Regions from separate parts of the Homo sapiens genome. Here region 2 is linked to region 1. The links come from fine-mapping of genetic effects on gene expression. A gene starts in region 1. The other region holds a variant in brackets. All regions are shown on one strand. Distances are between the middles of the regions.

Region 1 (16,728 bases):
GACAATATTCACAGCAAAAGGGGTTAACGTTATCCCTGTCCCTGCACACACCTGCCGTGTACGGCATCCTACCTGATCCTTCTCTTTTCAAAGCTATATCTAGACCGGGAGACTTTTCTCCCCAACTCAAGTACTCAATTTGAGCAGTACAGCTCTATGTGTATTCAAGTTTGCCTATTTCTAATAAGGCCTTTTTTTGTTGTTAAAGGGATGGAAGAAAGAGTATGAGAAATAAGTATATTCAAGCACCTACCATAATCTGAAATCTTCCATAAGCCAAATAACTCTCTGAAGCTATTCACTCGCATACTCAAGTCATTAATTTTATAAATTTCAGGTTTCTACTTATTCCAAAAATTTAAAACATAAAATTGAAGATTAAGGAGTACTTAGTCCAAGCTTGGACCACAGGAGAGCTATAAACCTGTCTTAAAATGCTTAATGACCTGATTAAGGTCATCAAAGGTAAAGAAAACTCTAGGAAGCAGCCTTTTAATCTGCCTGGCTACTTACAACCACCCACCTTTTCCATGCCCACGCTCTCCTAAGGGCTGAAGGCACTGCCAAGAATGACCTTCCTAGAAGGGCTGAATCCTATTTATTTTCTCTCTCCCAAATCTCCACCAAATCCCCTAAGAACTGGCAGTGTTCTGGTAAGAAACAATTTACTATTGCTCTCCTCCCCACCCACAGTTCAGTGCAACTGAAGTGAACACACACACACCCCAACCACTGAAAGACTTTCTCACTTAGATTCCTATCCTGCATTTTCAAAGTCCAAAGTTGTCTTCAAAATATCTTGCAAAATGCAGTCGTACCAGCTAGTCTTTAATCTCCACTAACATTGCCAGTTCTATACCCAAAATGGATATCGCAACTGCTATGTATTTTCATCTCCCTTCTCTAACAATCAGTAACAAGCAACCCAATCAGTAATAAACAAGCCTGACAAATAGCTCCTAAATTCACAGAGAAAAGAATGGTCTCCTCTCTTTCATAAGTAAAGCAAGCTGATAATGTTCTAGTAAATAGAAAGACTAAATGCCTCTTCAAGAAAAAAACATTTATATGCCTGGAAAAAACATCTTGGGTTTTTTTGTTTTTGTTTTTTTACTTAAGTATCTGTTCATAGTAGGTAGCAAATAATCTTTCCACACATATGCACTTTACCAGTTCTTTTAAAGACTCAGTAATCTAAGAAAGCAAAGCATAAGACTATGCTGAAAGAGCTAAGCCGCAGTTTACATAAAATTTAAACAAAACACAAGACATTAAAAAAATTCAACTACTCATAAATAAAGACCAATAAATCTACACTTTGGTCTGGGTTTCTGAACACAGGAAGAATCAGAGGGTTCAATAGGAGAGGTTATTTCTGAAATCGTAGGCATACCTTGAAGATATCACATGTTCCATTCCAGACCACCTTAGTAAAACTAACACTGCAATAAGGTAACAGAAATGTTTCTGCTTTCCAAGTGCATATAGAAGTTATATTTACAGTATACTGTAGTCTATTATGTTGGCAATAGCATTAGCTCTTAATTTTAAAATGCTTTATAATTTTTTTAAAATGCTAGTGATCATCCGAGCCTTCAGGGAGTCATAATCTTTTTGCTGGTGGAGGATTTTGCCTTGATGTTGATGGCTGCTGACTGAACAAGGTGCTGGCTGCTGAAAGATGGATGGCTGTGGCAATTTCTTAAAATAAGAAAACAATAAGGCCGGGCGCTGTGGCTCACGCCTGTAATCCTAACACTTTGGGAGGCTGAGGTGGGTGGACTGCGTGAGCTCAGGAGTTCAAGACCAGCCTGGTCAACAGAGTGAAACCCCATCTCTACTAAAATATAAAAAATTAGCCAGCTGTGGCAGTGTGCACCTGTAATCCCAGCTACTCAGGAGGCTGAGACAGGAGAATCTCTTAAACCTGGGAGGCGGAGGTTGCAGTGAGCCAAGATCGTGCCATTGCACTCCAGCCTGGGCAACAGAGCGAGACTCCGTCTCAAAAAAATAAAAAAAATGAAGTTTGCCACATCAACTCACTCTGCCTTTCAGAAAAGATCTCTCTTTTGGTAGCATTTCACCCACAGTAGAACCTCATTCACAATTGAAGTCAATCCTATCATACCCTGCCACTGCTTTATTAACCAAGTTTACAGAATATTGTAAATCGTTCATTGTCATTTCAACAATGCTCACAGCATCTTCACCAAGAATAGACTCTCTCTCAAGAAGCCACTTTCTTTGCTCATTCAGAAGAAGCAACTCTTCATCCATTCGAGTTTGATAATAAGATTGCAGCAATTCAGTCATATTTTCAGGGTCTACTTCTAATTCTAGTTCTCAGTATACTATTTCCACCACATCTGCAGGTACTTCTTCCACTGAAGTCTTGAACCCCTCAAAGTCATCCATGAGAGCTGGAATCAACTTCTTCTAAATTCCTGTTAATGGTGACATTTTGACCTCCTCCTTTGAATCACAAATGCCCTTAATGGCATCTAGAATTGTGAATCCTTTCCAGGTTTTCAATTTACTTAGCCAAGATCCATCAGAACAATCACTATCTATGGCAGCTATAGCTTTACAAGATGTGCTTCTTAAATAATAACTCTTGAAAGTTGAAATGACTCCTAGATCCATGGGTACAGAGTGGATGTTGTGTTAGCAGGTATGAAAACATTAATTTCCTTGTACATCTCCATCAGAGCTCTTGGGTGACCAGGTGCATTGTCAATGAGCAGCACTTGTTCAATGGTACCCTTTCTTCTGAGCAGTGGGTCTCGACAGTGAGCTTAACAGATTCAGTAAACCACGCCATAAACAGATGTACTGTCATCCAGGCTTTGTCGCTCCATTTATAGAGCACAGGCAGAGTAGATTTTGCATGACGCTTAACAATTTTTGGAATGGTAGATGAGCAGTGGCTTCAACTTAAAGTCACCAGCTGCACTAGCTCCAAACAAAAGAGTCAGCCTGGCCTTTGAGGTGAAGCACTGACTTCCTTCTAGCTAAGAAAGTCCGAGACGGCATCTTCTTCCAATATAAGGCTGTTTCATCTACACTGAAAATCTGTTGTTCAGTGTAGCCACCTTCATCAGTGATCTTAGCTAGATATTCTGGATAACATGCTACAGCTTCTATATCAGCATTTGCTGCTTCACCTTGCACTTTTACATTAGGGAAGCAGCTTCTTTCCTTAAACCTCATGAACCAACCTCTTCTAGCTTCCAACTTTTCTTCTGTAACTTCCTTACCTCTCTCAGCCTTCATCGAATTGAAGAGAGGGTTTTGCTCTGCTGGCTTAAGGGAATGTTGTGGCTGGTCTGATCTTCTATCCAGACCACTAAAACCTTCTCTATATTAGCAATAAGGCTGTTTCACTTTCTTATCATTTGGACGTTCAGCAGAGTAGCACTTTTAGTTTCTTTCAAGAACCTTTCCTTTGCATTCAGAGCTCGCTTGTTTGGTGCAAGAGGCCTAGCTTTTGGCCTGTTTCAGCTTTTGTCATGACCTCCTCACTAAGCTCACTCATTTGTAGCTTTTTGATTTAAAGTGGGAGACACGCGACTCTCCATTCACTTGAATACTTAGATGCCAATGTAGAGTTATTAATTGGCCTAATTTCAATATTGTTGTGTCTCAGGGAATAGGGAGGCCTGGGGAGAGGAAGAGAGTTGGGGAATGGCCAGTTGGTGGAGATATCAGAACATATGTAACATTTATCAGTTAAGTTCACCATATTATATAGGTGCAGTTCATGGAGCCCCAAAACAATTAGAATCGTAACATCAAAGATCACTGACCAGAGATCACCATAACAGACAGAATAACAATGAAAAGTTTGCAATATTGTGAGAATTACCAAAATATGACAGAGACACACAAAATGAACATACACTATTGGAAAAATAGCACCAATCGACTTGCAGGGTTGCCAACGAACCTTCAGTTTGTAAAAAACACAGTATCTTCAGAGAGCAAGCCTGACTAACAATTTCCTTCACTTTAAATTCAAAATGAAGGAATACCCTTTCCTTCCGAATGTATCTCATTTAACAAAATTCAAGACTTTTTTTTTTTTTTTTTGAGACGGAGTCTCGCTCTGTGGCCCAGGCTGGAGTGCAGTGGCACGATCTCAGCTTACTGCAAGCTCTGCCTCTTGGGTTCAGGCCAATTCTCCTGCCTCAGCCTCCCGAGTAGCTGGGATTACAGGCGCCCACCACCACGCCCGGCTAATTTTTTCTATTTTTTAGTAGAGACAGGGTTTCACCGTGTTAGCCAGGATGGTCTCAATCTCCTGACCTTGTGATCCGCCCGCCTCGGCCTCCCAAAGTGCTGGGATTACAGGCGTGAGCCACCATGCCTGGCCAAAACTCAAGACTTAAGTCATTCATTACAATTTTGTCTGAATTGCAATTAGGAGAGAAACAGCTGCAGTACCTTTGTATCTTTGTCAGTGAAATGTTTATAACAAGGAAAAACAAAAATCTGTTTGAAATCTCCAGTAAGCGCCCCCCAGTGCACCATCTAGTGGAAGTCAGGTAGTGTCATAATTAATTTAAAGAAAAAAGTCACAGAAACTCTGAAAACCATTGGGGGAGGGGGAGAAGTCAAAGCTTCAGGTAAGAATACAAGCAAATACTTTACAAACAGCCAAAATATCTTTCCAGTGTCCCACAATGCAAGAGGGCTGGGCTTATGAGAATAAATGATTCATTTTCTGTATAATCAACAGATGATAAAAGTTCCTTTATGGAAATTTTTGCTTGGGTGCTAGAAATTTTGACAGGAGAGTAAAAGTTAAATAAAGCCACTAAAACATAAATAAGTAAATAAATGCTGGGCTAGAGTGACAGCCTTGTGTAAGAAGAGTTGCCTTATATGTTACATGAATATGTTAAAATGTACATGTGAAACAGAGGTATTAGCCACAAAACAAGAGATAACTTCATGATTAGAACAGTTACATTCAGGCTGGGTGCAATGGCTCACGCCTGTAATCCCAGCACTTTGGGAGGCCAAGGCAGGCAGATCACTTGAGGTCAGGAGTTCGAGACCAGCCTGGCCAACATAGTGAAACCCCATCTCTACAAAAATATTAAAAAAAAAAAAATAGCTGGGCGTGGTGGCATGCGCCTGTAGTCCCAGCTACTCAAGAGGCTGAGGCAGGAGAATCACTTGAACCAGGGAGGCAGAGATCACAGTGAGCCACAGCACTCCAGCCTGGACAACAGAGTGAGACTCCACCTCAGAAAAAAAAAAAAAAAGAGTTCCATTCAGTAATCCATAAGACATTTTCATGTTCCTGATAACTAGTAAATTTAACAAAACCTAACGATTCTCTAGAATTCCCTAAGCCTTAACATCATACAAGCGGCTACTCCCAACTACCCATTTCAGCCTGTCCCACACTAATGCCCAAACTCCTTTGGTCAAGTTATTCTAATTAAGAAATTATTCTTCAATCCGTCTATAAATTTACAGTAAACACTTCCCGAAACAAAGTCATAAGTCATGATCAAAATGCATTACACTTCATTAGTATTTTCCTTCTGCATATCAATTATTTCTATTCAATTCAAAAAAAGGTACCGAAATTCAATGCTGAGCTAGAGATGCAAACACAAATAAGGTTCTCTAATTTGGAAAGCTTCCCAAAATTTAAAATAGAGATTTTCACACAGCATTCCTAACTTTTGTTTGTTTTGCCTGTGTGGAAAATTACCTTTCACCTGAAATTCAAACTAGCTAAGCAACCTGAATGGAAAGAAAAACCTCGCAGATAATATTTCTTTACTTGAAAATAACCATCTCCACCTCTGACCTGTGTATACGGGATCAAATTGGTATGCAGAAGTTGGCTTGATGGCGGGAATCTTACCCAGATTTTGGATTAAATCCATTATAGGTATAAAATAAAGTAGGAGTAAAGTGGGGCAGGATTCCTTTCATTTCTAGGGCTTTCAGTTGACATACCTGTAAAATGGACATGCTATGCACAGCCTGCCTCAGAAGAGTAGGAGGATGGCATACTATATAATTGATAGAGTGCTATGAGCTTCACGATTAAATGGAAATACTGTTTTTATAGAACCAGAGTGAACCTGAGCATAGAAAACTCTCCAAGGGCCATCGCTGTGACATTACCGCTAAAACTCAGTGACCTTCATCAATTCACTTGTAAACAAGCAATATATTGAGCAAGTCAAAGGAAAGGCAGCAACAATTCAAGATACTTCTTTATAAGTAAATCAAATTACGTAATTAATAGCCCAGGATTTACCTGCAAACTATTACTGCCTGACTAGCAGGTGCATCCCCAAAGCCTCGAGTACAGAGACTGTTTTTAGAGAGCCCCCCCTTTTTTAAATGTGAATATTGCTTTTAAAAATTAGAAAAAGAAAAAAATCACAATTCTACTCCCACCCATGGCACAGTGACAGAAACAAGGTCCCACCCCCACAATCCTTTCAAACCTGCACAGGCATTCCTCACGAACACTCCTCCCCCTCATTCCTACCTCACCGCTCCCCACTTCAGCCCAGACAAAGCTGAGTTACTCGGCTGGGTCTACCTGTCACTTAAGAAAAAGCCCCCAAATAGATTCACGCTAAATGCTGCTTTTAATTTTTTAAATAGCAAATAAGTAAATAAATAATGCTATCGTGTAGATTACACGGCCAAACGCCTGTTCTCAGAAAACATGTAATTAACACGACCCAAGTGAAGACGCCTTTCTGGCTTAGGGAAAGAAAAAAAAGAAGCCAGCCAGCTTATCGCTCCCTTTCAGTCGGTTCTTTTCCCCGGGGAGCCGGACTCTGACTCAACTCCGCAGTTTTTCCTCCACCTGTCGGTTCTCCCCGCTCTGGGTCTGCCCCGCCGCCGCCCCCGCCCGGAGTCCCGCGCGTCAACAGGGGTCTCCAGGGGTCCTCAGGGTCCCGCCCGAGGCGGCCCCGCCCCTGCCCCGGCCCCGCCCCCACCTCCTCACAAGGTGCCCGCCGCGGGCTCCCAGGCTGAGGCGCCTAGAGGCCGGCAGGAGGCTCCGGAGGACCGCGGCACCGCTCGGCCCGGTCGCCGGCGCAGGGAGCAGCTTCGGGGGCCGACCCCACCGCCCGAGCCTAGCCCTGGGCTCCGACAGGCGCTCCCCAGAGGCGCCCCATTACCTGCTCTGGGCTGCCGCGGTCCGCGGGCAGGAGGCGCACTCGCTCTGGCCCCTGCAGCCCCGGGCCCGGAGGCAAGGAGGCAGCGACCGCCACCGCCGCAGAGGACAATCGGGAGCCAGCGGGCTCGGCACCGCCGCGGCGGGCGCAGAACGCACGAGCCCAGTGGGAGCCCGGCCCCCGCCTCCAGCCCGGCTAGTAACCAACACGGCCCCCACCCTCGGAGGGGCGGGACCGCGGTTGGAGGGGCGGGGCGGGGCTGCACCGCCCGCGGGTAAGAGGGGCCTGCTGATAGGCTGCGAAGGCGATAGGCGTCTCAGACTTGAAGACGCCTCTCCAGCAGAACTCCCTCATTGGTCGGCAAGAGAAAACAAAGCTGGGCTCTGATTGGTGACAGCTCTGTAGCTCCTCCTCATACCCGCAGTCCCCGCAAGTTCCACCCCTGCCCGCCCGGTTCGCTCGCCCTTGGTTCCCACTCCCAGGTGGCTGCAGACTGGAGTGTGTTTCATGGACGAGCAACCTCCCTGAGGAGAACCCCGGATACGCAGGTTCATTCGCCAGATGCGAGTTTTCTTAAGCCGCTGCGATTCTCTGATTTCAGTATGAACTTGGTGAATAACGTAATCTTTAACTTCCTTTGGATTCAGACAAGTCTCCTAGGTTTAAAAATGCTGCATAAGATTGAGAGGGATATTGTTATGCACGAAAAAAGACATAAGGTGTTTTCACCTTTGGCGACACTGTAGGTGACTTTTTCTTATTACCTTTTTGTGTTCCATATTGAACATGTACTACATGATTAGAAAAAAAAATTCTTAAATAGAAAAATGAGTAGGGTGCGGAGAATGGTAAAGACAAACTTTAAGGAAATCCAGAGAACTGATTCTTTCACAATAGAAGAAAATACAGTAAACATGCTTAATATCTGAGGGCTACCCCGAAAAAACATGAACTGGTATCAGCGCCCTTCAGCTCTCTTAAAGAACTTTACATATGTGACCGAGGTGCCCCCATACTCCTTCCTATCATGTAACCAACACATAATGTGGACAGCACTACACTGCAAACAGAATTACAGGAAGACTCTTATAGGAAGAATTAGAATCCAAAGTACACAATCAATAAAGCTTTAGAAAAAGGGGTAGTAAAAAGCAGAAGACAAAAAAAAATCAGGTAATATAAATTGGAAAGCTCAGCTGATGGAGGGAATCATCAGAAAAAAAATAATGTGACAACACTTCAAGATGTGATAGAGACTTTGAATGGAAAGCTGAAGGGAGAGGAAGGGGATTGAGATAAGGATCAATGACCTGCAGTTAATATGAGCTCTCAGAACACATCCCCCAGAACTGGTGTCAGCCTAGAAGGCAAGAAGCATTTCTCACCTAGGGACCACTCTCACTTAACTCTCTCTAGCTGCCTTAACATTCTGTTTGTTCTTGTCATTCTCGCAAAGTTCTAAAACAGGCTATTTGAAATTAAGCACTTCCCCCCAGCAACTCCGTGAATTACGTAATAGTGAAAAATGGAGATAGACAAAAAGCAAACCTGAGGAAGGAAAGGAATGTTAAGGTAAACATAAACTTAAAGAGAAGTAAGGGCAAAACACCTGATAGAAAGAAGACAAGAAATTCTTTTTTCTCTCTTACTTCCTGAGAATAAAGTAAAGGTCTTTGGAGGACAGAATAACCTTATTGCCTAACAAAAAGAGTTTTTACCAAACCTTTCTAATAATAACTGTAATTCTAAACTGTAGTCTAAAAATACGTGTCCTAAAGTAAGTACTTTGAGCAAATAGTTTTGAGATCTAATATTTTTACATTGTGTAAGGAAAAGAAGAGGAACTTAGCCTAGTATGAACAAACTGTAGGGAATACCCTTCAAAAGTTTCTTCTACAATAACACCTGAAATTCCATCACTAACATTCTTTCACTGGGATTAAATAATGTATGTCTAAGATTATTCTTTTATTCATTTACTCATCAAACGTAATCAATATTAATCATCAAATACTAGATACTGCAATGAACGAGGCTTTCTACTAAGCACTCAGAGTATAGCCTTGAACAAGACAGACTTGCAGCTGTTTTTATCAGAAGATGGACAATGATCCAATAAAAAGATAAACTTCCAGACCGGGATCAGGGCAAAGAAGAAAACAGTGACCAGAGGGATGGGAGACACACTTAATTTTGGGAAAGGAGAAAAATGCTTTAAGGAGAAATGATCTAAGAGAAATGCTCTAAGATTTGAGGCACCACCTAAATAAGAAAACACCAACTTAGCAAAACTCCAGGGCAGATAAAATAGCAAGAACAAAGGACTTGAAGTAGGAAGAAAAGTGATGTATAGCAGGAACAGAGAGAAAGCCAGCATGGGTATCATGGTGCATAAGGAGAGTGCTACTAGACAGGTTGGAGAAGGAGGTGAGGACCTCGTAGGCAATGGTAACTTTGTATTTTGTTACAAGGATTCCTGACGGGCAACATCGAGTTGCTGATAGTGGAGTAAAATCATTATTTTTTTTTTTCCTTTTTCAGAGTCACCAGTAAAATGAGCATTCATTCATTAAGCCAATCATCAGGAATGGATCTAGGAAGAACCTACTGTTTACTAGAAATAGGTTAGATCTGTGGATATAACAATGAATAAGACAAGACTGGTGGATCTATAGAGAAACTATTACTGCACAGGTGATGGGGAAATCAAGAGTACTATGGGGCCAAGGAGACTGTCCTGCAGCAAATGAGGAATAAGCTGAAACATCAGTAGGAGCCATCCCAGAGAAAAGGGACAGGGTTCTAGATCCAGAGAACAACAGAAGAGCATTCAGCGCCTGCAAGGGAGCAGGGGATCTAATGCAAAGCCATTGCATAACCAGTCAACTTTCCCCACATCACAAGATTGCCTAGCCTGGATGGCCCCAGAATGTTGAAACAAATGTCTAATTAGTAACGACATTCTGAATGCTTGGGAGCTGAGCAAAATATGAGGAGAAGCAACCTGATTTTTGTTTCATATTATCATCTCCTTTATTCCAGCAACAAAAGACACTGAAAATAGTAAATGCCCACTTTCAACCATGACAGCCCTTTTAGGATAGTAACGGTGAGCAGTATTAATCCTATTTGACCAGAACTAGGGCAGAATTGAAGCCCCTGGAGTAGAGATCTGTTCTATTAGCCCCAGCCTTTCCGCCTGCTTCTTGGGATGGCTATCTTTACTTTATCAGTTGAGCCTCCAGCATTAGCAGATACCTATAAGGGAAGAGATCCAGCCCTCACTATGGAGGGCCAGAAAGAGAAAGCACCAGACATTAGGAAATGTCAAAGTATCTCAGTACATCCAGCTGATTAGTGACAGATAAGTCAAAATTTGCAGCAACTAAATAAATCAAAAAGTAGATTTTAAAATGTGATCTTTGAAATATTTGGCACAATGCTTCAAAGCCACTGAAAAGCTATCTCTTCACCCTAATAGAGGACAGAAATTCATTAGATAGACAGAAGAGGCTGCATACAGTAGCCCATGCCCATAATCTCAACAACTTTGGAGGCCAAGGTGGAAAGATTACTTGAGGCCAGGAAATCAACACCAGCCTGAGCAACATAGCAAGACATCTTTACAAAAAATTTAAAAATTAGCCAGGTTTGGTGGTGTGCAGCTGTAGTCCTAGCTACTCGGGAGGCTGAGGTGGGAGGATTGCTTGAGGCCAGGAGTTCTAGGCTGCAGTGAACAGAGATTTTGCCACTGCGTTCCAGCCTGGGCAACAGAGTAAGACCCTGTCTCTAAAATAGATGATAGATAGATAGAGAGAGAGAGAGAGATGATAGATAATAGATAGTTGATAGATAGATGATAGATAATAGATAGTTGATAGATAGATAATAGATCGTTGATTGATAGATTAGATAGATGTATAATAGAACCCAAAGGCAAAAATAAGTTAGTCCTCAGGAAGACCCAGATCGCAGACCTGAAAAGCCAGGAGGAACTCAATGGAATTTTTTTCCATAGCAGGTGCTCTCTCTACACCTGTGCTCTATTCTCCTATTCTGATAACCAGCCCCTGGCTCCTATGTCCCAGTGTCAGAGAAATGATGTTCCAGAGCTGCACCCACAAGGACTAAATCACCTGCCTAACCCTAACCCTAATCATAGATGATGGGGGCTGCAGGGGACCAGTATGGCTGCCAGGGCCCATCCCTGTTTATGAGCAGAGGTTTCCCAGAGAAGACACACTGGGCAGATTACCAGACACGCATTCATTGCACCCCTGACATTTTCAATCGCCAGTCAATGAGGCTTCCTTTCTAGTTACTGAAAGTCTTCACCTGCTGTTTATAGTAAACTGGAGACCTAGAGGCCAAGGCCGAAGGCTTGGATGGTAATTTCCCACATTCTCTGGAAATCTTTCTACTTCAGTTGGCTTCCAGACACCCAGTACCCTTGTGTGTTCCAGTTTCAAGTTGCCATTCTTGTTCAGGTCTTCTAGTAATTTCCTGTTTCCCTATCTGAAGTGTACCTCCTGACATCAATGTATTCAAAGAGCAAATGCTCCTGCCAAATCTATGAGTGTCAGTGAACTAGCCTGCTGCTCTGGGCTCAGATGAGACCAGCTTGCAGAACAAGCAGGACAGAGGCGTGAAGGGAAGCAGATGGCAAACCTCGATCTGCCACCATCCCTTCCACAGGCATTCCGTATGAGGACATCTGTCCCCACCCCTGGATGAAAACTTGGGTGATCCCGAAATTTTTCTGATTGCTCACAGGTAATAAAAATCATTTGGTCAGTTTAAATCACAATATACAGCTTTAATTTTAATGTAAATGCCATTGATCAACACTTTCAAGCTTCATTCACAGTTAAACTTTCCCTCTGCTTCCCCAGAAAGGGTCCCATGCAGCCAAGCTATGGAACTCCAAAAAGGGGGAAAGGATCCTTCTCTCTATCCCCCTAGAATCCCCTTCAAATTCAGGTTGCAAAAAGAAGGGGGAAGAGTCCAGGACTAGCAAGTTCATGCTTAACTGGTGCATTGCTAGCAGGGGTTGCTCTCCAAGCCTGGACAATGACTAAAATGTGCGCTTCCTTCTTGGGTCTTTTCTTGGGTTCTTAGAGACCTGTACTTGAAACATCCAACTCCACTTCTCTTGACCTGAGCAATGCAATTTTCTCTAACACTTCCCCTCGCTTTCTCATTCCCTGCCAGTCACTTTATAGTCTCCTGTTGCAGGGGAAGAAGGGAAATGGTCGCTAGGCTGCTCCAGGTGATCCTTGTAGGCAGGATTTAAACTCCTTCAGCCCAGCTGTCTCTTAACAAACAGCTGTTATCTGGTCCTTCAGACATTCATCCATACTTTACGCCCATGGTTGGTAAAAGTGCAGCTGGCTGTGTGCAGACTGGTCTTCAGTGTTCTCTCTCTCCACCACTGCCCCACTGCTGCCTCAAGCCAGTATCTTCAGCCTCTCCACTTGAGATTTGTCTCCAAATACCAGGGGACACAAATCAAGTTGCCTTCATGGTCTGCCTCACTGACACTGCCTCTCTAGTGAGTTTAAGGAGAAAGGTCTCAAAGAAGCAGGAGTAACAGAATTGCTTTCTTCAGAGAAAACATCTTCATAGATTCTTTCCTGAACTCCACTTCCTCTGCCCTTTTATGATCCTATTTTGGGTGAGGCACTTTTAAGAGTCACCAAGGGGCTAGGATATTTCCTTTTAAGATTTGCTTCTTGCTCTGACAACTTATTTTGGAATGTCACACCTATTAATTATCTTGGTGTGGTAGTGCACACCTGTAGTCTCAGCTATTCAGGAGGCTGAGGCAGGAGGATTGTTTAAGCCCAGGAGGTTGAGGCTGCAGTGAGCTATGATCACGCCATTGCACTCCAGCCTGGGCAACAGAGTGAGACCCTGTCTCAAAAAAAAAAAGACAACAACAACAAAAAAGAATTTCACATCTATTGTCTCTTCCTGCTTCAGTCAAAACTTTCTTTTTACATTTTTCTATATTGATGTGAATCTGTAAAAACTGCTCTTGTTAATTAACACCAAGGACACGGACTAAGAAAATTGGAAAACTCTAAAACTAGTCAGAAACTGCTATTTGATGATCAATGAGAATGGAACACCCACTCTTGCCTGGATGATTCAAGCCTGAGGATCACTTGACCCAAGGAAGCAGTCTTTATTTCCAGCCTTCAGTTCAGAGATGTGGGGACCCAGCATTCCACATTTAACTTTATGGTCTCCAAGGAAACAGAACTCTGAATCTGTCACACCAGAACTCATGTTAATAAAAATATTACTAAATGTTAAGAAGATACTACTCACATCACCTGAGGTCAGGAGTTCAAGACCAGCCCGGCCAACATCGTGAAACCCCATCTCTACTAAAAATACAAAAATTAGCTGAGCGTGGTGGCAGGTGCCTGTAGTCCCAGCTACTCAGGAGGCTGAGGCAGGAGAATTGCTTGAACCCGAGATGTGGAGGTTGCAGTGAGCCAAGATCCCACCACTCTACTCCAGCCTGGGCAACAGAGTGAGACTCCATCTCAAAAAAAAAAAAAAATGCTACTCACAGCCTTGCTCTGCTTTCAGTCTATCACAACACTGTTTCCTTCCAATTCCTTCTCCCAGTTCCTACAAGAAGGCTACTTTTTCCCTTGGTGAGACCCTCTGTGGGTTCCTTGGAGCACTCCCCCTTGTTACAAGCTCATAAACCCAACCAAGTTAGACTGCAGGTTTGTCTCTGATGGTGTTTGGCTGTTGAACTTTATCATTAACAACCTGATATCATTTGGATGTTTTCCCCTGAAAATCTCACATTGAATTGTGGTCCCCAGTGTTGGAGGTGGGGCCTGGTGGGAGGTGTTTGGGTCGTGGGGGCGGATCCCTCGTGGCTTGGTGCCATCCTTCTGACAGTCAGTGCGTTCTTTGGAGATCTGGTTGAGTAAAGTGTGTGGCACATCCCCTCCCTGGGGATTGGCTCCAGGGTTGGCTCCAGCTGTCATCACATGATATGCCTGATCCCCTTTCCCCTTCTGCCATGAATAAAAGCTCCCGGAGGCCGCCCCAGAAACTGAGCAGATGCTGGCGCCATGCTCATCCAGCCTGCAGAACTGGGAGCCAATGCCAATTAAACCTTTTTTTTTTTTTTTTTTAAACGGAGTCTTGCTCTGTCACCCAGGCTGGAGTGCAGTAGCACAATCTCGGCTCACTGCAACCTCTGCCTCCTGGGTTCAAGCAATTCTCCTACCTCAGCCTCCCAAGTAGCTAGGATTACAGGCACCTGCCACCACACCCGGCTAATTGTTGTATTTTTGGTAGAGACGGGGTTTCACCATGTTGGCCAGGCTGGTCTCGAACTCCTGGCCTCAGGTGAGCAGCCCACATCGGCCTCCCAAAGTGCTGGGATTACAGGTGTGAGCCACTGTGCCTGACTCTTTTCTTTATAAATGATCCAGTCTCAGGTATTCCTTTAAGTAGTGCAAAAATGGCCTAACACACAGCCAGTTCTTCCCAGCTCAGGTTCCTGCTCCACTCTCCCATGTTCTGTCTTCATGCCTGCATCTCCTCCTGTTGCGCTGTCACACGAACTCGTTGCCACCATGGTACCATCACGAATCACCCAGAATCCAGCAACTTTCAATTATATACCATTAAAAATACCATAAACATGTGCATATGCAGGAACAATCATATTAATAGTTTCAAACATAAGAAAAAACTAATTTCCTTATACCATTAATTTGCAACAGTATTAAAATTACCTGAAGAGCCTTTTCAAATTATACAAGCACTGAGATGCTAATTCAATGCTTCTTAACAGGCTCTCCCCAAATGCACACACCTGGATCTACCTCATTACAGCAGTGATCCTGTTGGTGATGGTAGAGGACCCTCAGGTATTTTTGGGAAAAAGCTATAAACCACTTTACCCTGCACTGATCTGATAGACTCATTGGAATTCTAAGTCTATAAGTGTGGGGAATATATTTGGTTGGTGCAAAAGCAATTGCGGGTTTTGCCATTTAAAAGTAATGGCAAAACCCTTAATTAATTTTGCATCAACCTAAAATATTTTTCTCTTAGCTAAAATTACAGGTTTGATCTTGCTTATAAATAAAACTGTCCCCACAATGTCAGGGGCTTTGACTTATTCACTATGGGATCCCCAGTGGCTTACAGGTTGGAGACATAGCAAGAATCTAGTGAAGATTTACTGAACTAACTCATTTGGAACTCATTTTAAAATGAAAGAGTTTTCATCAACCAGTTGTACCTGAGCAAGAAACATTTATCTAAAGTATTAGCAGTGACTGTGATCCATTATATTTATTTTTTTCTATTTGGCAACCCTTCAAGATTGATTTTCCATGTGGTTTGCAATTGGCTGCATACTCAAGGACTTCTGTATGTAAACTGAGAGTGATCTAATAATTCTGAGGCATACGGGTGTGAATGACAGCATGATGTGTGGGTGTCTGAAGTTGGATTGCTAGCGACCTCATGAATACCTCTATACCAATTTATATGTGGTCCCCAGCATAGTATGTGACCATATGTGTTACAGTAACATAGTCAAGAACTTCTTAAATAAAACACAATAAAGAGACTGATAATTACGTAAATGCTGGTATGCTAACCTGAGGAGCCTCTGCCTGTTTGTGATTTAGTCTTTGATTATTCAAACAAGTTGTGTCCGGTAATATATATGTCCATTTGATTGAAATATACATATAGCTGAGCATGGTGGCTCATACATGTGATCCCAGCAATTTGGAAGGCTGAGGTAGGAGGATTGCTTGAACCCAAGAATTCAAGACCAACATGGGCAACATAGCAAGACCCCATCTCTACAAAAATTAAAAAATTAAATAGAATGCATAGATGTGTTAATACACACACACACACACACACACACACAAACACTGAGATTCTCATGTCAACTAATGCTCCGTCCTCCCTCTTGCCCATGTCTAGAAAGCTTTAAGTTGAACCAGTTTGGATACTTTTAAAATACTCTTTTATCTATAGTGTTTGAAGTTGGGATTATAAAATAATTTTTTAACTTGCATTTAGCTTTTTTAAAAAAAAGATCAATTTTTTTTCTGGCATTGTGTCCAGAATTGGTTCCTTCCAGCAGGTTTACGGTCTGGCTGACTTCAAGAATGGAGATGGTCCTTATTAACAGCTCTTAAAGATGGCACGGACACAAAGAGTGAGCAGCAGCAAGATTTATTGTGAAGAGCGAAAGAACAAAGCTTCCACAGCGTGAAAGGGTACCTGAGCTGATTGTCGCTGCTGGCTGGGATGGCCAGCCTTTATTCCCTTTTTTGTCCCCTCGCATGTTCTGTTTCTGTCCTATCAGAGTGCCCTTTTTTCAGTCCTCCCCACGATTGGCTACTTTTAGACTCCTGCTGATTGGTTGTGTTTTACAGAGCACTGATTGGTGCATTTTACAGAGTGCTGATTGGTGTGTTTTACAGAGCACTGATTCGTGCATTTTACAATCCTCTTGCTAGCTACAGAGCGCTAATTGGTGCATTTTACAATCCTAGCT
Region 2 (13,995 bases), 65 kb after region 1:
AAATTAGCCGGGCGTGGTGGCGGGCGCCTGTAGTCCCAGCTACTTGGGAGGCTGAGGCAGGAGAATGGCGTGAACCCGGGAGGCGGAGCTTGCAGTGAGCCGAGATCCCGCCACTGCACTCCAGCCTGGGCGACAGAGCGAGACTCCATCTCAAAAAAAAAAAAAAAAAAAAAAAAAAATTAGCTGGGCGTGGTGGCACCCACCTGTAATCTCGGCTACTTAGGAGTCTGAGGCAGGAGAATCGCTTGAATCCAGGAGTTGGAGGTTGCAGTGAGCTGAGATCAAGCCACTGCACTCCAGCCTGGGCGTCAGAGCAAGACTCCATCTCAAAACAAACAAACAAACAAACAAACAAACAAACAAACAAAACAGGCCGGCGCGGTGGCGCACACCTATAATCCCAGCACTTTTGGGGGGCCAAGGCGGGTGAATCACGAGGTCAGCGAGGTCAGGAGATCGAGACCATCCTGACTAACACGGTGAAACCCCGTCTCTACTAAAAATACAAAAAAAATTAGCCGGGCCTGGTGGCGGGCGCCTGTAGTCCCAGCTACTCATGAGGCTGAGGCAGGAGAATGGCGTGAACCCAGGAGGTGGAGCTTGCAGTGAGCCGAGATCGCGCCACTGCACTCCAGCCTGGGCGACAGAGTGAGACTCCGTCTCAAAAAAAACAAAAACAAAAACAAAAACAAAGTGCAATACCACGACATACCCAGTAGAGTGGCTAAAATGAAAGACACCGACCATGCCAAGTGTTGGGGATGATGAGCAAGCGGAACCCTCATACAACGCTGGCAAGAATGTAAAATGGACGACTACTTTGGAAAGCATCATACGTGAAAGTTTACAGGTGTTTTATTCACCATTATCCCAAACTGGGAACACACAAATGCCCACACAGGTGAGTGGATAAACAAACTGTGGTGTATCCATACAATGGAAGAGTGGTCAGGCATTTAAAAGAAATGGGTTACTGATACACACAGCAACATAATTACATTATGCGGAGTGAAAAAAGCCCGTCAAAAAAGAGTACATACACTATATACACAGTATTTGATATGTGGATCTAGTTCCACTTCCATAAAATTCTAGGAAATACAAATAAATCTACAGTGACAAAAAGCAGATCACGGTTGCCTAGGGACAGGAAGTGAATGGACAGGGACAGGAGAGAAAGATTACATGAGGATGAGAAGAATCTTGTGAGGGTGATGAATACATTTATTATCTTAGTTACAGTTCTGGTTTCAAAGGTATATACATATGTCAGAAGTATCTTACAGTACACTTGTGTACTGTTTGTTGTATAAGCTGTAGGGAAAAATGCAAGGGTCTTTTTATTTTTTATGTTTATTTTTAATTTTTTTAAGAGATAAGGTCTCACTCTGTGGCCCACGCTGGAGTACCGTGGTGCAATCATAGCTCACTGCAGCCTTGAACCTCTAGGCTCAAATGAACCCCTTGCTTCAGCCTCCTAAGTACCTGGGACTACAGGTGTGCCACAATTCCCAGCTAATTTTTTTAGTTTTTGTGTAAACATGCTGGGGCTGTCTCACTATATTGCCTAGGCTGGTCTCAAACTCTTGGCCTCAAGCCGTCTCACCTCGACCTTCCAATGTGGTGGGATTACAAGCATGAGCCACCATGACCAGCTCAGAGCACTTTTCATATATAGTAGTAATGTCTTTAGTTAATATAATTGATTTCGACACTGAAATCTTATTATATTTTGGCCCATTCTCCTTCTCTCTTTCTCTTTCATATTATTGAATTTCTAGAATGCTATTACAACCTATTTAATGTATTTTATGTTATGTATTCATTCAAAATGAATAAAGAGCCTGTTATGGCCAGATACTTGCTATGCCCTGAGAAGATAAAGATAAGGGAATCCAGTCATTATGGTAAGGGCCTATTGTCAGCATTATGTTGAGGAAACATCTGCTAACTTCAAACCACACCTTATTTAGGCCTTTTCTTTGGAAGATGACACCACATGTTATTTTATTTTTATACTTTTCTCCATGTAGAGACATTTCTATGAAGAAGAGGAATGTATCAGAACATGTACTTCAAGCCAAAGGACAATTCTGCAAGAGAGAATGAGAAGTCCTCCCCTGGATCTGATTCTGAATCTTGATTCCAGAATTCACAAGTAGGCTCGGTAGTCACACTGGGTCTCACATGAGTGGGATCTGAGCCTAGGCCCCCTGAACCAACGGGGAAGAGTGTGACCCCAGCCAGGCTGTGATAGGGAGGGTTATAATAACACATACGCAAAAGGCCCCTCAGAGAACACTGCGGAAAGATGAGAAACTTGCATCCAGGACCAGCCTTTCCAGAGGGCAAAAAGGAGACTCTCCCAGCATTTATGTAAGAGTGCACTGCAACACAATTAATAAATATTCTGAAGAAGAGTAAACCCATGGTGAAACCCCTCTACTAAAATACAAAAAATTAGCCGGGCGTGGTGGCACACGCCTGTAGTCCCAGCTACTTGGGAGGCTGAGGCAGGAGAATCGCTTGAGCTTGGGAGATGGAGGATGCAGTGAGCTGAGATCATGCCACTGCACTCCAGCCTGGTGATGGAACAAGACTCCATCAAAAAAAAAAAAAAAAAAACGAAGAAGGAGGAGGAGGAGGAGGAGGAGAAACTACAGTGTGATGTCAACTTCTTTCTCACAACTTCACATCACTGGATAATTGTTTTAAAAAACAGAACAATAAGGCTAGGCATGGTGGCTCATGCCTGTAACCCAGTGCTTTGGGAGCCTGAGATAGGAGGATCACTTGAGGTCAGGAGTTCAAGACCAGCCTGGGCAATGTAATGAGACTCTATCTCTACAAAAAATTTAAAACAAAACAGGCTGAGCATAGATAAAAGTCTACTGGGGAGGCTGAAGCTACTGGGGATGCCAAAGCAGGAGGATTTCTTGAGCCCAGGAGTTCGAGGCTGTAGTGAGCTATAAGCATCACACCACTGTACTCCAGCCTAGGCAACAGAGCGAGACCCTATCTCAAAAAAATAAAAATAAAAAAACAAAGTCTACCACCACCCTATCACCTAAAAGCCATTATTACTGCCTCAGAAAAGTTAGCCAACTTAATGATTATAATTAAGAAAACTTTTCTAACAGAAAGTGCTATGATGATCTATTACACAAATTATTTTGAAAAACATTTTTTAAAAAATGATACTAATGAAAAAAAATCACAACAGGTATAATACAACCTAAACTCATTTACAAGTATGAAACCCCCACACATCCTAGCCTTGATTTTAAAATAATACTGAAATATTTACAAGTCAAACATTCTTAAGTTTATATATATATATATAAAATAAAATACATATATTTTTACAGACAGAGTTTTGCTCTGTTGCCCAGGCTGGAATGCAGTAGTGCAATCTCAGCTCACTGTAACCTCTGCCTCCCAGGCTCAAGCAGTTCTCAAGCCTCAGCCCCCTGAGTAGCTGGGACTACAGGTGCACACCACCACGCCCTGCTAATTTTTTTATTTTTAGTAGAGACAGGGTTTCACTATGTTGGCCAGGCTGGTCTCGAACTCCTGATCTCAGGTGATCTGCCTGCCTCGGCCTCCCAAAGTGCTGGGATTACAGACGTGAGCCACTGCGCCCAGCCTTAAGTTATGTTTAAAAAAAAACATTATAAAAGTGCAATTTTTAAAAATCCTAATGCAAGAAGACAATATGGAGACAATAAAGGGGTTTTATCCTAAGTACTACTTTGGGACCCTGGAAATGTTTTAAAAGACTCAATTGTTGCTACCACGTGACCTGGCTTCATATCTTTTTCCAGTCCAGGTTGTGGCACATGAAATCTAGAGCTCTCCTATTGCCTGCTGTGGAAGACAGAAATTACAGAGGAAGGAGAGGCTCACAGAGAAAAGAAGGAAAAATAATAAGGAAGAGGAAAGACAGAATAGGAAAGAGTTGGAGGAGAAAAACAAAAATAAAACAGGTTGAGAAAAATAGGATAAGTGAAAAAAGGAGGAAGAAGGAGAAAGAGTGATGAAAACAACATATGAAGGAAACTGAAAAGTGAGCTGCTTATGCAGATTTAGGGGTAAAGGAAAAGCTTCACCTCCGCCCTCTGAAAGATGTGCTGAACATGAATGGACAATAGCCAGGTTAATAGAAGAAAACAGCAAACAAATGTATGTAATGTGCATTAGCACAGGGGAGTCACAGAAGGATGATTACCCAGTAACCCAATGAGGCTCAGTTGCTTTTATATCCTTCTTTGTGGAGGAATGGGAGAAAAGGGAAATATGGCTATTTTTAGACGTAGTGAATGATTTATAGGGGAGATGAATGAGCCCCATGCTCAGACAATGGTAAGTAAATGATTCTCTTTGGAAATTGAATGGGATCAGAGAACAGATGATAGTTTGGGACAAAGTTCATCTGGGCTCCAGGTGTGGTGTTTCACTTTCAGTCTCCTCTGTGATACAAGCTTTAATCTTCTCAGGTTAATGAAATTTCAGGGAGGATATTGAAGGCAATTGTGTTCCTTTTTGGCGGGTCCAGTTTCTACCTAGATTAGGGAACTTCAGAGAACATTCTCTTCTTGTGCATTTGGGAGAGACAGAAGGTGAAGAGACAGGAGTTGGAGGTGGGGAGAAGGTCAGAGTGAACTTGAGGCTGCTTCTTTATTTCAGTATGTCAAAGCACCATATTTTGGGGTATCGTTTGCTGATCCCCAACATGTATGCAGTGTTTACATATAATTTGCTTCTATCTTTATAGACTGGGGTGTATAATCCAGTGGTTTTCAGATTTGCTTTCATTGTTACTATTTAAAAAGCTAAAGGGTACAACGTTCATTATTTGGGTGATGGGTAAGCTAGAAGTCCAGTCCCACCAGGATGCAACACACCCATGTAACAAACATGCACGTGCACCCCCTGAATCTAAAATAAAATAGCTAGAAGCTGGGCGTGACTGTTCATACCTGTAATCCCAGCACTTTGGGAGGCTTGGGCAGGTGGATTGCTTGAGCTCAGGAGTTCAAAACCAGCCTGGGCAACATAGCAAGACCCCATCCCTACAAAAAATACAAAACTTAACCAGGTGTAGTGGTGCACACCTGTGGTTCCAGCTACTCAGGAGGCTGAGGTGGGAGGATAGCTGGAGCCTGGGAGGTTGAGGCTGCAGTAAGCCATAATTGCACCACTGCACTCCAGCCTGGGTGACAGAGCAAGACCCTGTGTCATAAAAAATAAAAATAAAAATAGATAGAAAGTCTTATAATTTTCTTTTTCTTCTCACCCACCCATGACATTAATCTAGAATTAGGTGGAGCAGGCAAAAGAGGAGAGATTGGGCCCCTGGGAATTTGTACCGAGTCGCAAATGGCTCATGAGTTACTGAGAACCCTCACTGGAGAACACGTGCCTTGTGGAAACCCTCTTGTGATATAAGCAGCAGGGGCACCCCTGCCAGTTTCAAAATCGTGTGACAAATGGACACAGACCTGTGCCCCCCACTGTCAGAGCCTATCTGCTCTCTACAGGGGCTTCCTTTTGAAGAGTCAAGCTTCTTGCCAAGCTATCTTTCAGCCAAAAACCATTTTCCTCTAGTTTACAGGAAAAAGAGGAAGAAAAAGCCCACCCATCCTTTTCTGGGTTGATTATTTTCCATTTGAAATTAACGAGCTTCCCACGATGAAGCCAAGTTGTTTTGTTCGGATAATGAAATTGCATTTTTGCTTCACACGCAGCAATTCAAACTAACGTGGGCTCCAGCCATTTAGGGAACAGGTCCTTAGTATGGCCAGAAAGAAGGAATGCTACTGTTTTACAGAGATAAAAGTTACATTCAAATTCCTCTCTGAATTTCCCTGCGTATCATGGACAGACAAACTTACAGAGAGACTTTGTTTGTTTTTTGTTTTTTGAGACAGTTCTTTCTCTGTCGCCAAGGCTGGAGTGCAGTGATGCAATCGTGGCTCTCTGCAGCCTTCAATTCCCAGGCTCAAGTCATCTTCTCAGGTTCCCGAATAGCTGGGACTACAGGTGCAGCACCATGCCCGGCTAATTTTTTTACTTTTGTAGAGACAGGGTCTCACTATGTTGCCGAGACTGGTCTCAAACTCGTGGCCTCAACTGATCCTCCCGCCTCAGCCTCCCAAAGTACTGGCATGAGCCACTTTGCTTGGCACAGAAATACTTTAAATATTTACCCAGGATATTTCAAATATGAATCTGTACTTGACGTGTCTACAAGTGGCTGGCTAGTGTTTCCAAAGACGCACTGAAAACGTTGAAAAAATAAAATGGCGACTCCGGATAAGGTATCTGTCACCATGCTATGTTGCACAGAATGCTCACAGGAAAAGCCACACTGCTCTGTGACATTATGATCAAGGAACACGTGCTGAGTGGAGGCTCAGACCATATGGGCCTGTGCATATGGTAATCATTAAAGACTCACAGCTTACAAGAGTAACTGACAGAAAAAATATATATAGTGAGAGTCTCAGTGGTATAAATTCCTCTCTAGACCTCCCACCATATGGGGATATTTAAGTCAAAAGAATTAAGCATCAGAGCTAGAAGCTATTCCTGCACACAAGTAGAAACTACTTTCAGTGAGCAGAATCAGGAAATACGATGACTTGTCTACTCAGGCACATACTTAAAGAAAGTACCCAAACCGAAGGAACTAGAAAGACTTTCGCTTCTTTTGAAAAGAAGGGAAGTGGTGAGTGAGCTTCGGCATTCAGCCCCACCCAAAGAGCTCCCCAGACCTGGGCCACAGTGTCAGGAAATTGCAGCAGAGAGTTCAGAGAGACAGGACTAGGTCCAGCAAAGGAAAAATGATTAAGGGGTCAAAGACAGGGATAAAAGTGGCTTTTTTTCCCCAAATATTGAGTTGGAGTCTTTATTTTTATTTTGTATTTTTATTTATTTTTATTTTTTGAGACGGAGTCTCGCTCGTTAGCCCAGGCTGGAGTGCAGTGGCACAATCTCAGCTCACTGCAACCTCTGCCTCCTGGATTCAAGCAATTCTCCTGCCTCAGCCTCCTGAGTAGCTGGGATTACAGGTACGCACCACCACACCCAGCTAATTTTTGTATTTTTGGTAGAGACGAGGTTTCACCATGTTAGCCAGACTGGTCTTGAACTCCTGACCTCATGTGATCCACCTGCCTTGGCCTCCCAAAGTGCTGGGATTACAGGCATGAGTCATCCTGTCTGGCCAACTTGGAGTCTTGAATGAAAAATAAGAGATACATTTTCAAATTCATGCAAAGTGCAAGCATTTATCTTTGGTAAGCATGGGTTTGCAATCTGAAGAATCTGTAGATTTTTCAGGTGAAGATGAGCAGAGTAGGAAGCAAATATTGTACTTTGACCGATTTTTTTTTTTTTTTTTTTTTGAGACGGAGTCTCACTCTGTCACCAGGCTGGAGTGCAGTGGCACAATCTCAGCTCACTGCAACCTCCACCTCCTGGGTTCAAGCCATTCTCCTGCCTCAGCCTCCTGAGTAACTGGGACTACAGGTGTGCACCACCGCACCCAGCTGATTTTTTTGTATTTTTAGTAGAGACGGTTTCACCATGTTGGCCAGGATGGTCTCGATCTCCTGACCTTGTGATCCACCTGCCTTGGCCTCCCAAAGTGCTGGGATTACAGGCGTGAGCCACCGCGCCCTGCTGGCCAATTTGATTTTAAGCAAAAGGTTTCATTTTGTTACATACCTCACCGTGCTCTGGCCACATCCTAGAAGATGGTGACACCATAAGAAGGGGCCAGAACACATCCTGAAGCAATATACTAGTCACTGTCACCTTCACCCCCATGCCTCAGAAAGTAAATTTACACCCCACCAGGGAGCAAAATTACACTCACATACACAAAACATGAAACGCCGAAGCATCCTATTGTGGAAGTCAGTTTTAACATAAGAAGAAAAGTCTATGCCTTCAAGAAATATTTATTAGGGCTGGGCCCAGTCCCTCATGCCTGTAATCCCAACACTTTGGGAGGCCAAAGTGGGAGGATCACGTAAGGCCAGGAGTTTGAGACCAGCCTGGGCGACATAGCAAGACTCCATCTCTAAAAAAATAAAATAAAAATTAGCCAGACAGGGGCTGGGCGCGGTGGCTCACACCTGTAATCCCAGTACTTTGGGAGGCTGAGGCAGGTGGATCACGAGGTCAGTAGGTCTCTACTAAAAATACAAAATTTAGCCAGATGTGGTGGTGCGCATCTGTAGTCCCAGCTACTCGGGAGGCTGAGGCAGGAACATTACTTGTACCTGGGAGGCGGAAGTTGTAGTGAGCCGAGATTGTGCCACTGCACTCCAACCTGGGTGACAGAGTGAGACTCCATCTCAAAAAAAAAAAAAAAAAAAAAATTAGCCAGACATGGTGGTGCACACCTGTAGTCCCAGCTACTCAGGAGGCTGAGGTGGGAGGATCACTTGAGCCAAGGAGTTTGAGGCTGGAGTGAACTATGACCACAGCACTGCACTCCCTTCTGGGCAACAAACCAAGGCCCAAAGAAAGAAAGAGAAAGAGAGAGGGAGGGAGAAAGAGAGGATGGAAGGAAGGGAGAAAGAGAGAAAGAGAAAGGAAAGAGGGAAGGAGGGAAGGAAGGAAGGAATGAAGGAAGGAAGCAAGCAAGCCAGGTGGTGGGTAGTGGAAACAGTGAGTGCAAAGGCCCTGGGGTAGGAGGTATGTGCTTGAGGAACAGCAAGAAGGCATGCAGGGCTGGAGTGGAGTTAGTAACAATGAGTTCATTTCACCTGAAGTCTCCCTTTTAAGCAATGAAATTGAATGCCAAAGAAGTGAATTACCTAATTAATTGTAGCTTCTATC[C/G]AAAATGATAAGTGGTAGCAAACCTGAATTCACACCCTCAGTCCTTGGCAGAACCATGCTAAGTCTTCTGGGACTGTTGCTAGTCCATCTGGTGCCTTTGGGCAAATTAGAAAATGGTGTTCCTTCCTCCAGGCAAAGGCCGCTGCATGACCAGGTGCACTACTTGGCAGATGGTGCTTGGCCTGGACTTCACCTGTCATTTGCCCCCACAGTCAGGCACTCTCAGCTGGGCCCAAACTGCACAGCAATATGCATTGGCCAGAATCAACAGCATCTTTTCCATACTGTTATATCTCCCCTAGTATTGATCGAATCATTCCCCAAGCCAATGGTTTCAAGTTTGAACTCTTAGTTAATTCTCATCATATAGTTCATTTTGCAAGAGGTGTGCAGCACCATGCTGCTTTGAACCATTTGGTAGGTGTTGCAAATAGTTGAATGGTGGAAAAGTTGAATCTGTTTGGCCACAGATGGACTGTAAGATGTGTATTGGATTCCCTTTGCTGCTGTTAAAAATTAATGCAAACTTAGTGACTTAAAACAACACAAATTTATTATCTTATGCTTTTGGATGTCAGAACTCCCAAATTCAAGGTGTCAGGAGTTGCATTGCTTCTGGAAGCTCAGTGGGACAATTCATGTACCTGCCTTTTCTGACTTCTAGGAGCTGCCTGGATTCCTGGACTCCTTGACCCTTCCTCCAGTTTCAAAGTCAGCAATGCAGCACCGTCAAAGGGTTCTCTCTCCCTCTCTGTCACACACACACACACACACACACACACACACACACACACACACTCACCCCTGCTTTCATCATCAGGTTGCCTCCTCTGACTCAGACCCTCTGCCTCCCTCTTATAAGAACCCTTGAGATGACACCGAGTCTGCCTGAATAATCCAGGAAAATCCAGGATAAGCTCGCCATTTGAAGATCCTACATCTAAAAAGTCCCTTTGTCACATTCGGTGACAAGGCAGCGTCTGGGAATTAGGATGTGGACATCTTTCGGGGGCATTATTCTTCTGACCACAAGATATAATAAAAAAGTACACTCCCTGAGAAGGCCCCTTGTTTGACACTGTTCCTGGCCTTAAGAATTGTTTTAGATGTTCATTCTTCACCTCTTGAAGGCTTTCTGATTTTTAAAGAATTCACTGATAAAAGACAAATGCTGTTGGGAGCACCATTCATGGTAGCAAAGATATGGAATCAAACGGTGCCCATCAGTGGTGGACTGGATAAAGAAAATGTGGTGCATATACACCATGGAATACTATGCAGCCATAAAAAAGAATGAGATCATGTCCTTTGTACAACATGCATACAGCTGGAGGCCATTATCCTAAGTGAATTGATACAGGAACAGAAAACCAAATACCACATGTTCTCACTTGTAAGTGGGAGCTAAACATTGGGTATATGGGGACATAAAGATGGCAACAATAGATGCTGGGGACTACTAGAGAGAGGAGAAATGAGGAGGGCAAGGGTTGAAAAACTATTGGGTGCTATGCTCACTACATGGGTGATGGGATCAACTGTACCCCAAACCTCAGCATCACACAATATACCCAGATAACAAACCTGCACATGTACCCCCAAATCTAAAACAACAGTTGAAATTTTTAAAAATTAAAAAAATAACCCAAATGCTTCTGGGAGGGAGAACATGTTAAGTGTTATCTGTTAAGACTTGAGAGAGACGAAAAAGACCCAGGGAAAGAATTAGAGAATGTAAGGAGGGGTGTTTGGGCACTACGGGCAAAAAAAATAATTAATTTTCAGTTTTGGCCAAGAGCTAACTTGCCGCCTTAGAAAGAGCAACGCGTCTGGGAATAAGGAATCTCAAATTCTAGTCACTAATTAGTCGTTAATTGCAGAAATTGCATTTAGTATCTTTGTGTCTTTCCTCACGATGAACTGAGAATAATAGCTAATCCCTTGGGCAGTGAGATGACACTTAAAAACCTGAAGTAGAGCTGGGCACAGTGGCACACGCCTGAAATCTCAACTACTTGAGGGGCTGAATCGGGAAGATCCCTTGAGGCCAGGAATTTGAGACCAGTCTGGGCAACAATGTGAGACTCTGCCTCTTAAACCTTTTTTTAAATTCACCATGTGTGCTGGTGCACATCCGTAGCCCTAGCCACTTGTAAGGCTGAGGCAGGAGGATCACCGGAGCTCAGAAGTTTGAGGCTGCAGTGAGCTGTGATCGTGCCACCATACTCCAGCCTGGGCAATAGAGCAAGACCCTGTCGTAAACAAAAAACAAAACAAGAAACAACCCTGTATGTAAAAGCCCCTAGAAAAGCTTAACAAACTAGCAAATATTCCTTTTGTGATAGGTCTTTGACATACACCATCTCTTTTCATGCTCGGAAGTGCTATTTGAAGCAGGTGCTATCATGACCCTCATCTGACAGGTGAGGAGACTGAGGCTTGGGCTAAATAACCAGAGAAAGGTCATGCAGCGAGGAAGTAGCAGAACTGGGATGTGAACCTGGAATTATGTAACTTCAGGGTCGCTACTTTCTATCACTATAAAGTATTCTGCCTGCAGGCTGGGCCCAGTGGCTCACGCCTGTAATCTCAGCACTTTGGGAAGCCAAAGCCAGCAGATGGCTTGAGTCCAGGAGTTTGAGACCAGCCTGGGCAACATAGCGAGACCCCATCTCTACTAAAATTACAAAAATTAGCCGGGCATGGTGGCGCACGCCTGTAGTCCCAACTACTTGGGAGGCTGAGGCAGGAGGATTGCTTGAACCCGGGAAGCAGAGGTTGCAGTGAGCTGAGATTGCACCACTGCACTCCAGCCTAGACCACAGAGTGAGACTCTGTCTCAAAAAAAAAAAAAAAGAAATATATATATATACACACATATATATACACACATATATATACATATGTATATATATATGTATGTATATATATATATATTCTGCCTGTAAAACCTAGGTGGGAAATCTGGAGACAGCATTTGGGTGAGGTCATGGCAAGGTGGCAGAGAAAACAAAGCAAGCTCGTATTTTAAAATTCCAAAAGGGGGCAATTCCAAGGTGGTTGATGTTTGAAAGAATATAGTTTAGGATTTGGCATTGTGAGCCATTTTAAAATCCAGGCAAAAGAGATGGAAATTAGCAGCACCTGCTCTTCCCTGGGTCCCCTGCCTCTCCCTGGGTCCCCTACCTCTCCCTGGGTCCCCTGCCTCTCCCTGAAGCCTCTGAAGAGACCCCCAAAAAAGGCCAATTTCAGGAGCCACACAGTTATTTTGTCTGTTAAATTATCAAACACTCACATCAGGACTCTAGAAAAGAAGAAAAGGAAAGAATAAAATCTTGAAGATATCAGAAGAAAGAATTTATGAATGAAAAATTACAAACCAGGCCATCATTTAAATAAACAAATACATTCGAATGGAGTTATTTGAATAAGAAAACTCCTCCATCGACATAGTCTAATTTATGAAATTGTCACTGAGAAAAACATAAATGAAAGAAGAAAAATTGTAAGAAAAAAATCAAAATCATTGGAATAGATTAGACAAATAAGAGACCATTATGGACAATTTATATTTTAAAATAGACAAATGCACATTTTCAAAAAATTAACAGCAGAAGAGATACAAAACTGGAAAAAAAAAAACAAAACAGGAATGTATTTCCCTGACCTGGGTCCCACTAAATCCTCCCATGAACATTCCAATGAGAACACAGTTTCCATCTCTGTAGCTTGAACTCCTACCCTTGGCTTCCTCCCTTTCTCCATCCACCCTCTCTTTGCCCAGCACAGACCCCACCTCACCCCACAGCCCTTCCTGCACCGCCACCCCATCCCATCCGCCCCTCCAAAGCTACCCTGGCATCTTGTGGAACTCAGGCTCAATTATAAACAAGTTTCCTTACAAGTTAATGTATTCTATTAGTCATTTACTTTTTAAACTATTGTGTTAATTGTGAATAAAACAGAGCAAAATCCTTGTTCTCTGATAACTTACATTTTAGTTGTGGAAGGCTGATAATTATAATTATGATATAAATATATAGGTACAAGTATTATACATAAAATATATAAATATATAATATAATGCATAATACATAAATTCATAATCAATATATTTCCAAATGGTTAGCATTTCACCATTCAGGTGCACTTACCCTTCTGAGACCTTACAACTACACAAGTTCTGTCTGCACACAGGAGAAATTTTATTCTGGAACTCAGCTAAATGCTACTTGAAATTTTTTTTTTTTTTTTTTAACGGAGTCCCTGTCACCCAGGCTGGAGTACAGTGGCACTATCTCAGCTACTGCAACCTCCCCCTCCCAGGTTCAGGCAATTCTCCTGCCTCAGCCTCCCAAGTAGCTGGGCCTGGCTAGTTTTTTGTTTGTTTGGTAGAGACAGGGTTTCACCATATTTGCCAGGCTGGTCTCGAACTTCTGACCTCCAGTAATCTGCCTGCCTTGGCCTCCTAAAATGCTGGGATTACAGGCATGAGCCAACGCGCCCGGCCTAAAAACACTTTTTTTTTTTAAAGGTGCAATCCGCCATGTGACTTTCTCTTAGTATTGAATATTTTTGTTGCATTAGTTTTAACTTGATGTTGGAATGTTATTCCTGTAGCAGAAAATACTACACAGCTGTCAACTGTGTTCCTTAGTGCCTAGCCAGAAAAATATTTGGAGGCTATTTCAAAAGTCCTTCTTCATTTATGTGGCTTTGCTGATCAACTTTTCAATCAACTACTGAAATTATAGTTTCCAGTGAAGAGAGAGAGAGGGGGTAAAGTGGTGGGAAGTAACCCATCTAGATGTGCAATAATATCAGAAAGAATTTTCGAAGAATTTATTTGGATTCTAGAAGATAAAAGGAACTATCTCATTCTCATTCAAAAAGATTCTCAGAACAGTGAAGACTTTTAAAATACATGTGTTTCTCTCTCCCCCCCACACACAAAAAAACGTTAAAAAAAAAAATCATAATCAGTTGGTGATAAGGCAACCGGAGAAAAATAAAGCAGGCACTGAGTCTCCTTAGCGCTAAATTTCTGGCTGCCTGAAATGCTGTCAACAATTGCTGGATGGAGTTTCTTCTGCCTCCACCCCCTGCATTTTGCCAAGGTCACCTATCACACCTTTACCTAAT

The links.
Region 2: its variant is fine-mapped to the expression of MPP7 in cerebellar hemisphere (GTEx, PIP 0.99).

The regions. Positions count from the first base shown.
Region 1 is chr10:28,295,695-28,312,422 of GRCh38, forward strand. It overlaps MPP7 (MAGUK p55 scaffold protein 7), which reads right to left and starts at 7,370. Exons shown (of 17, transcript NM_001318170.2): 1 at 7,167-7,370. It overlaps MPP7-DT (MPP7 divergent transcript), which reads left to right and starts at 7,475. Exons shown (of 2, transcript XR_930772.3): 1 at 7,475-8,735; 2 at 9,705-10,577. RefSeq lists a silencer at 6,917-7,556.
Region 2 is chr10:28,361,658-28,375,652 of GRCh38, forward strand. No RefSeq gene overlaps it. Among named protein-coding and RNA genes, the nearest start is that of MPP7-DT, 65 kb to the left of the region's middle. The variant C/G (reference allele first, on the strand shown) is at 8,854.